Linked DNA regions of Homo sapiens: all the other regions are linked to region 2. Evidence: fine-mapped expression QTL. A gene starts in region 2. Each other region holds a variant in brackets. All regions are shown on one strand. Distances are from middle to middle. Region 1 overlaps ACAD10 (acyl-CoA dehydrogenase family member 10). Region 2 holds the start of SH2B3 (SH2B adaptor protein 3). Region 3 overlaps ATXN2 (ataxin 2). Region 4 overlaps SH2B3 (SH2B adaptor protein 3).

What was found. PIP is the estimated chance that this variant, and not a neighbour inherited with it, causes the effect. A credible set is the group of variants that fine-mapping cannot tell apart.
Region 1: its variant is the best candidate, but not a certain one, in a credible set for the expression of SH2B3 in whole blood (TOPMed, PIP 0.59).
Region 3: its variant is the best candidate, but not a certain one, in a credible set for the expression of SH2B3 in whole blood (TOPMed, PIP 0.76).
Region 4: its variant is the best candidate, but not a certain one, in a credible set for the expression of SH2B3 in pancreas (GTEx, PIP 0.55).

Annotation. Positions count from the first base shown.
Region 1 is chr12:111,725,438-111,728,119 of GRCh38, forward strand. It overlaps ACAD10 (acyl-CoA dehydrogenase family member 10), which reads left to right. Exons shown (of 21, transcript NM_025247.6): 9 at 2,525-2,682. Among named protein-coding and RNA genes, the nearest start is that of ALDH2, 40 kb to the right of the region's middle. The variant A/G (reference allele first, on the strand shown) is at 1,027.
Region 2 is chr12:111,404,622-111,407,303 of GRCh38, forward strand. SH2B3 (SH2B adaptor protein 3) reads left to right here and starts at 1,302. Exons shown (of 8, transcript NM_005475.3): 1 at 1,302-1,656. RefSeq lists silencers at 781-940, 1,061-1,640.
Region 3 is chr12:111,471,577-111,474,258 of GRCh38, forward strand. All of the region lies in intron 18 of ATXN2 (ataxin 2), which reads right to left. Among named protein-coding and RNA genes, the nearest start is that of SH2B3, 67 kb to the left of the region's middle. The variant C/G (reference allele first, on the strand shown) is at 1,210.
Region 4 is chr12:111,439,444-111,442,125 of GRCh38, forward strand. All of the region lies in intron 2 of SH2B3 (SH2B adaptor protein 3), which reads left to right. LOC124903019 (a long non-coding RNA gene) reads right to left here. Exons shown (of 2, transcript XR_007063462.1): 1 at 1-2,682. Among named protein-coding and RNA genes, the nearest start is that of SH2B3, 35 kb to the left of the region's middle. RefSeq lists an enhancer at 701-1,245. The variant T/C (reference allele first, on the strand shown) is at 1,279.

The DNA.
Region 1 (2,682 bases), 320 kb after region 2:
TGGGAGGTGGAGGCTGCAGTGAGCTGTGATCACATCACTGCACTCCAGGCTGGATGATAGAGTGAGACCCTGTCTTTTTTTTTTTCCTTTCTTTTCTTCTTCTTCTTTTTTTTTTGAGATGGAGTCTCACTCTGTTGCCCAGGCTGGAGCGAAATGGCGCGGTCTGGGCACACTGCAACCTCTGCCTCCTGGATTCAAGCAGTTCTCCTGCCTTAGCCTCCCAAGTAGCTGGGATTATAGGCATGTGCCACCACACCCGGCTAATTTTTGTATTTTTAATGGAGACGGGGTTTCGCCTTGTTGGCCAGGCTGGTCTCAAACTCTTGACCTCAAGTGATCCATCCGCCTCGGCCTCCCAAAGTGCTGGATTACAGGTATGAGCCACTGCACCCGGCCGACATTGTTTTTCATAACCACAACACCAGTATACCTAACTAACAATTATTTAATAATAATACTGAATATCTAACCCATGTTCAAATTTCCCCAATCCAAAACATCTTTTGTAATAATTTTTCAACTTGAAACATTTGTAATGGTAGGATTTTCAAAACAATTTTTTAGAGTAGTAAACTGGAGGCTGAGGCAGATGGATCACTTGAAGCCAGGAGTTTGAGACCAGCCTGGCCAACGTGGTGAAACCCCGTCTCTACTGAAAATACAGAAATTAGCTGGGCATGGTGGCGCTCACCTGGAGTCCCAGCTACTTTGGAGGCTGAAGCAGGAGAATCATTTGAACCTGAGAGGCAGAGTTTGCAGTAGGCCAAGATCGCACCACTGCACTCCAGCCTAGGTGATAGAGTGAGACTCCATCTCAAAAATAAATAAATAAATAAATAGAGTAGTAAACTGTTTGCTAGTAATGACCAAAAGATGGATTAGTGACATGTCATTGGGTCACCTTAGTACTGCTGGGTGGTATATACACCACTCATACCACCAAAAAATGATAAAAATAACCTCAATAACAAGAAGGGATACTTATTGAACCCTTATTGGAACCAGAGACCATGTCAGGCACTCTGT[A/G]TGTTTGTTCCCTAATTCATTTCTTTTTTTAAGTAACAAATACCCTGGAAGCTCCCTTAATTCTTGCAATTACCCTTTGAAGTATGTATGTTTTACAGATTAAAAAACAACAACATGGCTGGGTGCAGTGGCTCACGCCTGTAATCCCAGCACTTTGGGAGGCTGAGGCGGATGGATTACGAGGTCAGGAGATTGAGACCATCCTGGCTAACAGAGTGAAACACCGTCTCTACTAAAAATACAAAAAATTAGCTGGTTGTGGTGGCACATACCTGTAGTTTCAGCTATTCGGGATGCTGAGGCAGGAGAATCACTTGAACCCGGGAGGCGGAGGTTGCAGTGAGCCAAGATCGTACCACTGCACTTCAGCCTAGGCAACAGAGCGAGACTCCATCTCAACAACAAAGCTCAGAGAGGTTTAATAAGTCTCTCAGGGTCACTCTTCAACTAAGAGCAGAGTTGGGATTTAAACCTGGTTCCAACCAGGTGCAGTGGCTCACACACGTAATCCCAACACTTTGGGAGGCTGAGGCAGTCAGATTACCTGAGGTCAGGAGTTTGAGACCAGCCTGGCCAATATGGTGAAACCCCATCTCTACTAAAAATACAAAAATTAGTCAGGCGTGGTGGCATGCACCTGGAGTCCCAACTATTTGGGAGGCTGAGGCAGGATAATCGCTTGAACCCAGGAGAAGGAGGTTGCAGTAAGCCAAGATCGCGCCACTGCACTCCAGCCTGGGCGACAGAGCAAGACTCCATCTCAAAAAAATAAATAAATAGGCCGGGAGCAGTGGCTCACGCCTATAATCCCACCACTTTGGGAGGCCAAGGCGGGTGGATCACGAGGTCAGGAGATCAAGACCATCCTGGCTAACACGGTGAAATCCTGTCTCTACTCAAAATACAAAAAATTAGCCGGGCGTGGTGGCGGGTGCCTGTAGTCCCAGCTACTCAGGAGGCTGAGGCAGGAGAATGGTATGAACCTGGGAGGCGGAGCTTGCAGTGAGCCGAGATCGCGCCACTGCACTCCAGCCTGGGTGACAGAGCGAGACTCCGTCTCAAAAAATTAAAAAATAAATAAATAAATAAACAAAAAATAAAAACCTGGTTCGGTGTGACTCCAGAGGTCCTTCTCTGAGCCTTGCTGCTTGCTACATTATTACACTTTGAATCCATTCCTGTGGCTTACACAAATGAACCAGGGAGAAGAGAAAAGCATGCTGTCCAAGAAGCATAGATGGGTGTGCATGTGTGTGTGTGCACGTGTGTATGTATATGTGTGTGTGCATGTATGTGGATCGATCCATTGCAAGAGAGGATACTTCTAATGCACTGTGCTTATGTGAAAGGAAAAAGGAAGTATCCAGTGCTCTGGGTCTGAACTCTTCACCAGCTCTCAACCTGTATACCCAGGGAAAGTGACAAAGAATAGGGTCATGACTAACAGCCTGCCACATTATGACTCTGATCCCTGAAACCCCTTCTGTGTTCCTCCCAGTGTCATTGGCACCCCCTTCTATGTGATGGAGTACTGCCCAGGTCTCATCTACAAAGACCCTTCCCTGCCAGGCTTGGAGCCCAGCCACAGACGAGCCATATACACTGCCATGAACACAGTCCTGTGCAAAATTCACAGTGTGGATCTGCAGGCTGTGG
Region 2 (2,682 bases):
GAATCCTGTAGCAGACCGCTCCCTTCCCCCATCTACTCGGAGTCTGGAAATCCCCACCTTCTGGGGAACCCCTTCCTGTAGTTCTAAGGTCAGGACTGGGGCCGATTTGTTTAACACAGAGAGCTTCCTGGAGCCAAGCCTCGAGCTAACTGCTTTAATGCATTAACTCACTTAATTCTCACTGCCAGGAGAGTGGGTACACATTATTTCCATTTCATAGGCAAGGAAGTGGAGAGGTACGGAGAAGTCAAGTCATTTGCCCGGGTAGGAAGAGGGGGAGGCAGTGGAATGGAGACACTTGCTGCCTGGGAAGACTCGAGGTGGCCCCTCCAAGCTGGGGGCGTGGGCGACTTGTTTCCTGTTGGGGGAGGGGGAGAAGAGTACATTCCTCCCTCCCCGCCCTCCCACATGTTGGGGGAGAGGCTGGCTGAGAGCATGTCCCACTCCGGACTAGGGGGAACCCCACTGTCCGTCTCAGCTCCCCATGAGGCCGTGGAGAAAATGTAAGTAGCCCGGGGGCGGGCAGGGGGGTGGGCGCAGAGGCCACGGAAGCCAGCGGTCGGAGAGGGCTTCCTGGAGAAAGATGCACCCCTCCTAGAATTGGGGGACAGGACGGGCGGCCGGAGCGAGGCTGGGCTATACGGGCACCGGCTGTAGCAAAGGCAAAGCTGAGGGCTGGGGCCAGAACCCAAATCGGGGGCCTGGGGCCGTGGCGGGTCGGGTCAGCATGATCGCAGATAGTCAGGGTCGGGCAGGGCTGGGCTCCCTCCCTGGGGCGATGATGAAAGCCGTGGTCGCTATTGCACCGCCCAGCCCTGCGGGCACTGATAAGGCCCTGCAGGAGGGAGTCAGCAAGGGCGCGCCCCCTGGAGGCCAGGCCCCTCGACCCTGCCCGCCCTAGGCCCCGCCCCTTCATCTGGCCCCGCCTCCAGGCGCTGAGGCACCTGGTGACCTGCCGGCGTTGAGTGGGTGGGGCTAAAGTCGCCCCGCCCCTCCGATCCTCACTTCTATCTTCAGACTGTGGGACGCGAAATCGGGTGGGCACGTGGTGGGCGTGGCTTCGCAAGGCCTCGCCTTTTTCCGGACCCGCGCCAGGAGAGCCCTCCGACCCTGGCAGCCGCGGACTAGCGGGATTGGTAGGCGGGGCCAGTCCGGGCTCCGCCCTCATGGCCCGCCCCTCCAGCCGAATCTCCGACTCGCGCGCGGCCTGAGGCGTGGCTCCTGGTGGCCCCGCCCCTGCCCCGCCCCTGTCGCGGCCGGCCTCCCCCGCCGGGCTCCGCTCGCACGGCCGGTTCCTCTTTACATAACGGCGCGGGGCGGCATGGGCCCGGGCCACCGCCTCCGCCCGGCTGCCCGCCCGGACTGTCGCGGCCCGCGGTGGCGACGGCGGCCGCTGCAAAGTTTCCCCGGCGGCGGCGGCCCGGGGGCGCATCCTCCCGCAACTGTCAAGCGCTGGCGGCGGAAATGATGAGGCGCTGGCCATTTTCCGAGCCCGGGTTTCCTGCCTGAGCCCCGCTCGAGCGAGCCGCGAGCGAGGAGCCGGCGGGCGGGAGAGGACGCGCCCAGGGCGGGGGCCCGCCCGCCCCCTCGGGATTTCGAGGGCCCGGGGGCGCGCGACGCCATGGGCCGGCCGGGCCCAGAGCTCCTGTCTCTCAGGTGAGCCCGCGTTTGCCCGCGCTCCCCTCCTCCGGGGCCGGGAGGGCTTTTGTGGGGAAAGAGGAGGCCCCGTGTCCAGTTCTGCCCGGGCTCTGCGCGTCACCCCCAGCCCAAAATACTGCCCTGCAGCCAACTCGGATGGAGGCGTTCCGGGGTGACGGCTCCCAGCGCCTACGACCCCCCACTCAGCCACTACCCCCACCCACACACGTGTTAGGGAGAGCGTTGGGGTAACTGAGGCCGTGGGATGGGGGAGAGGGCATCGCTGACGCCCCCAGCCCACCCTACGGTAGCCTCGCCGGTTGGGGGCGGCCCTCCCCTCAACTTGTGCCTGGGGAGGAGCGGTCAGGGGTCACCCATTGCTACCCTGAAAGTGAAAGTAGTCAAACTGAGGCTGTGAGCACAGATGAGCCCTTGGGTGTGGGGGCAGCGGGGGAGGATGCGCCGGCCCCTCCCCACTCCCCATTCCGGGCCATGTGGCTAAGAGGGTAGCGCCCTGATTCAGGAAGCCCCTCTCCCCAGTTCCTGCACTGCCGAGGTCGACCGGGCCAGGCCCCCGCATGCTGCTGAATTGGGCGGTTCACCAGGGCTAGGCGTCCCAGAGACAGGTTTCTGGTATTGATCCTCTCACACCTCTTGCCTGGGGTTCCCTGGGAATCCCCCGACCAAAAAACGTCTGGAGTGGGTGTTGGTCTTCTAGATCCGCACGGTAGGGATGGTATTTCAGAGGTCTCTGATGCCTGGTGCAGAAATCCCCTTCCCTCCCTTCCCTCCCTCCGGCCAGGGGAGCTTTGTTTTGAGGGAGGGGGACTGCATTTGAGGAACTGGAGAGGAGGGTCTGCCTGCCTGTCCCGCTTCTTTTTTTCTTTAGTTTCCTCATTCTCCTGTTTCTCTTCCCCATTCCCAGCCACAATGATGTAGGTGAGGAGGTCACTGCCTGCAGCTGGGGGCCTCCAGGGAGGGGCACGGCCAGGCTGGGCTGAGTGGGAGGAAGTGAAATCTGGTGGGGGGTTCAGAGCAGAGGCC
Region 3 (2,682 bases), 67 kb after region 2:
TGTTCATAAAATCCTAAGAACTGATTATATAATTAACTGCAAATTTGTGGCTAAACATTCACTAACTGTTGCTGAAATTTGGGAGAGCTAGTTACATATTATTTTATCTATGTAGGAAAGCAAACCTGAACATTTTTTTATATTTTATCTTGGATGCACGTATTTAAAAACCACCTCCTTCTGGTAAACAAAAAAGCCACTGAAAACTACTTATCACTTTTATCAAATGAAAGTTTGCCCGATTATGCTAACTGAGCTTAAACTATTCACTATTATTACTTTGTTACTTATTACCTTCCTGTATATTTAAAAAATAATTAAAAAGCTAGTCAAGTATACTATGGTGCTATTATTTAGATATCATGTGTTTGTCTCCACTAATTCTCATGTTAAAACATGATCCCCAGGCCAGGCGCAGTGGCTCACGCTTATAATCCCTACACTTTAGGAGGCCAGGGCGAGCGGACTGCTTGAGCTCATGAGTTTGGGACCACCCTGGGCAACATGGGGAGACACTGCCTCCACAAAAAATACAAAAATATTAGCCAGCTGCGGTGCTGTGCATCTATGGTCCCAGCTACTCAGGAGGCTGAGGTGGGAGGAACTTTTCAGCCAGGGAGGCAGATGCCGCGGTAAGCCGTAACTGCACCACTGCACTCCAGCCTCGGCGAAGAAGTGAGACCCTGTCTCAAAAAAGGGGAGGGTAGGGGACAGGAGGGGAAGAAAAGAAACCAAGCCCTTGACTCTGCCTGTTATTTGAAAAATGCTAAAAATATTTTTATCCAATACCTCAAAGGATTGGAATTTAGTAAAGGAGCAGGGTAAAAACTAACATATAAACAGCAATAGCCTTCATATATGGTACTTCATAAGTAATTACTTAGAAGATGCAATGGAAGAGAAGTCCCTGGGTTACACTAACATTAAAAAAGAACCTACCTAAGGCATACACTGAAAAAAATGTACAAAACCTTAAAGATAAACTTTATTTTTATTTATTTATTTTCTTTGAGACAGAGTGTCGCTCGGTTGCCCAAGCTGGAGTGCAGTGGTGCAATCTTGACTCACTGCACTCTCTGCCTCCTGGGTTCAAGCGATTCTCCTACCTCAGCCTCCAGAGTAGCTGGGACTACAGGTGCACACCACACCCAGCTAATACTTTTTTTAAAATATTTTTAGTAGAGACGGGGTTTCACCATGTTGGCCAGG[C/G]TGGTCTCGAACTCCAGACCTCAGGTGATCTGCCCACCTCTGCCTCCCAAAGAGGTGGGATTACAGGCGTCAGCCACTGCATCCAGCCAAGGATAAACTTTAATATGCTATTGAAGGTATACTTTGTTCTTGAACAGGAAGACTCAACATCATGAAGACATCAATCATTTCTTCTCAAGTTAATTTATAAGTTTATTGTGATTCTGGCCTGCCATGGTGGCTCATGCCTGTAGTCCCACCACTTTGTGAGGCTGACACAGGCAGACTGCTTGAGCTCAGGAGTTCGACACCAGCCTGGGCAACATGGTGAAACCCTGTCTCTGCAAAATATACAAAAATTAAGCCAGGCACGGTGGTGCTTGCCTGTAGTCCCAGCTACTTGGGAGGCTGAGGTGGGGGGATTGCCTTAGCTCGGGAAGTTGAGGCTGCAGTATGCCCAGATCATCCCACTGCACTCCAGCCTAGGTAACAGAGCCAGACCTTGTCTCCAAAAAATTAAAAAAAAAAAAAAAATTCCAGAAGTTTATACTGATAGTAAGAACCAACGACAAAAAAACCACCTCACTGGTTACCTTTGGAGGATAACAGAAAACCAACTCATTATTTTGAAGACTGCCTTAAAAAGGGAAATGATTAACATTTTAAATTACTTTTCCTAAGAAAGCTATACCTCAGGGTAACCAAACAGCTGGATATGGGAAAGTTTTTCTTTATAGAAATATTCCAGGCAATAATTGAAGAAGGGATGAAAGGAAAAGAATGTCACCATTTTACAACCCCTAAGGAAATAACTGATCTTGGGCTAGACAATTATCATCAATGGCTGCTAAAAAACACACCAAAAAAATTAAGGCGCTAAAGGGACATATTATCTCCTGGATAGATAAAACATCTAGGAACTCACTGACTACTCCTATCAGGAAAAAGACTGATTACATGACTCCTCACTGAAAGTACACACATCTGTGAAACATTGGGGAAAAAAAAAAAAAACCCAATCTGATCAAGCCTTCATTATTTACTATCAGTTTACAAAGATTACAGGGGACAGAAGTCTACTTTAAATATCAACACAGGGATACAGTCAGCAAAATTCAGATCGTGGGAAAAAAATACAAGACAAGCTGGATATGAACAAGACAAAAACTAAGGGAAAAACTGTAATTAAAACTGTGAGGGCTGAGTGCAGTGGCTCATGCCTGTAATCCTGGCACCTTGGGAGTCAAGGCAGGCAGACTGCTTGAGCTCAGGAATTCGAAACCCTGTCTCTACAAAAAATACAAAAATTAGCCAGGTATGGTGGCGCGCACCTTTAGTCCCAGCTACTTGGGAGGTTGAGGTGGGAGGACCACCTAAGCCCAATTGGTAGAGACTGCACTGAGCTGAAATCATGCCACTGCACTCCAGCTTGGGTGACAGAGTTAGACACTGTCTCAAAAAACAAACAAACAAAAAAACCTATGACTTGGCTGG
Region 4 (2,682 bases), 35 kb after region 2:
CTGGCCTAATTTTTGTATTTTTAATAGAGACAGGGTTTCACCATATTGGCCAGGCTGGTCTTGAACTCCTGACCTTGTGATCTGCCCGCCTCGGCCTCCCAAAGTGCTGGGATTACAGGCGTGAGCCACTGCGCCCAGCCGGGAGTTTCTTTTGAGATGAGATTTTGCTCTGTTGTCGAGGCTGGAGTGCAGTGGCACCATCATAGTTCACGGCAGCCTCAACCTCCCTGCTTCAGCCTCCTGTAGCTGCAGGGGAGTTTTGAGCAGAGGAGGGTAGGCTGGAGCAGCATCGTGGGGGTGGAAATAGCTAATTCTGGACAGACTTGGGCGTAGTCTGATGGGACAGATGGCAGTTTTTGATGCTGCCCAACTCCCAGAGGGCCCAGGTGTCACACTGTTTTCCAGCCTGGCTCCTCTCTCCTCACTGGGGGCTCCTTGTGAATACCCCTTTCCCCCAGCAGTTGTCTGGGACTGGAATCCTGGCTGCTCAGCTCCCAGCATCCACCACTTTCTGCCTTTGAGGGATGGGCCGTGCCTCCCCTCCTGCACATCTTCTGTGGCTCCCTGGCATCTGGGGGGAAGATGGGGGACAGAGGCCTCCCTGCCCAGCTCTCTTGACCTCCCTCAGACCCCAGCCAGCTCAGACGCCGGTGGGTTTCAGATCCACCCAGGTCCCATGTTAAAATGCAGATTCCAAACTCCCTTCCAGATGTCCTGTGCCAGAAGGTCATAGAAGCACCCTGTGCTGTGTTCCCTCCCCCTTGGAGGTCTCTTGAGCCTTCTCATCTGTGAAGTAGGTGAAGGCACAGGAGGGCCACGTGAGGCTCACACACACTGCTCCTTGCACGGAGCTGGCCCGGGGCAGGGTGGTGAGGCTTCTCCTTCATAAATCTCACTGTCCATGATGCCCAGGATTGTCCTTTGCTCTGGAACCATGACGTCCTACTTGGTTTCGTCGTGTCCTTGATGGTGTGACGCCCATTTCTGTGACTTCCTCTTGGAAAACTTTTTGAAAAATGTTGCCGGCCTGTGAATTCCACAATCTGGAAACTGCTGGTGGGCCACCCAGGCTCCAATGCCTGGCACACAGCAGATGCTCACTAAAGGGTGGTGTGGGGTCTGTGAGCGTCATTTCCAGCCACAGTCAAGCCCCTGTTGTCTTCTAGCCTGGGGCTGTGCCTTCTGCCCTCTGGGTGTTGGCTCTTGCTATTCCCTTAACCTCCAGTGCCTTTTTCTCCACCATCCCCACTTCGGAGAATATTCAGCAAACGCTACTGC[T/C]CCTTTCTCTGTGCTGGGCCAAGACCGAAAGATGGAAAAGGAAGAGGGAGGCCTTCTTGAGCCTCTGGTGCATGGGAGCAGGGGAGTGACAACTCAGGAGGGCTGCCCAGGGAGGGGCCTTCTTGCTCCCAAGTCTCTCTTAAGGCTGAGCTCCTAAGGCCCTGTGCTCCTCCCTGCCTTACCATTCCCCTGAGATCCTTCCATACCCTCTGGGAGCTCTGTTGCACACACTATGCTCATATTCTCAGGGAAGGGTAGTGGCATTATTATCCCACCTTAGAAAATGCAGACTCTTGCTTGAGCCCAGGAGGTCAAGGCTGCAGTGAGCTAGTTTATACTCTATCCTGGGCAACAGAGAGGGACCCTGCCTCAAAAACAAAATACACACATACACACACGTGGAGACTCATTTTGGGAGGCCGAGGCAGAAGGATCACTTGAGCCAGGAGTTTGAGACCAGCCTGGACAACATAGCGAGATCCTATCTCTATCTCTACAAAAAAATAATCAGCCACATGTGGTGGCATGTGTCTGTAATCCCAGCTACCTGGGAGGCCAAGGCAGGAGGCTCACTTGAGCCCCCAGGAGTTTGAGGCTGCAGTGAGCCAGCCTGGGCCACAGAGCAAGACCCTATCTCTTAAAAAAAAAAAAAAAAAATTGGAAACTGAGGCTAGGAGAGGTGAGTCACTTACCTATGGAAGAGAAGGCAGAGTTGGGACTCAAGCACAGGACTAAGTGTCCCAAACCTCAGGGTGGTGGAGTTGCTGCATGGTTCTGTAGCCCTGAGGGATTTCTGGGCAGGATACTGGATGGCTTTTAGCAACTAGGCTCAGTCTTGATGCTGCCCACCCCAGAGAATGGCTGAGACGCACCACGTTTAAGGAGAGTTTGCGAGGTGAGGACCTTCCTCACCTCAATCCCATATTACCTTGGGATGGTAATAAGGTCTATGAAATAGGTCAAAGTCTGGGTAATGCATGGGTTTAATAGGTTTCTCTGCTGCAGGACTTCTCAGAGTCTTTAATGGAGCTAAGCAGCAGCATTCTCTTTCCACAAATGACTGTCCTCTCTCGGAGAATCCTTTGCATTGGCTGCCAGGAAGCTGAGACAAATCTGTGGCAAGAGGGACTCTTGTCTGTGTTGTAGCAGCTGTCTCCCAGCTCTTTCTGGGTGTCTCTAACCTGACTAAAATCATTTTTGGAAGAAGGCAAGGAATTTTTTTTTTTTTAAGACAGGGTCTCACTCTGTCGACCAGTCTAGAGTACAGTGGTGTGATCTCAGCTCACTGCAACCTCTGTCTCCCAGGTTCAAGTGATTCTCCTGCCTCAGCTTCCCAAGTAGGTTAACTTTTTGATACTAGACAGTAAGCTTGGATTAAGTATTTTCCATAATAATGCTCATTCA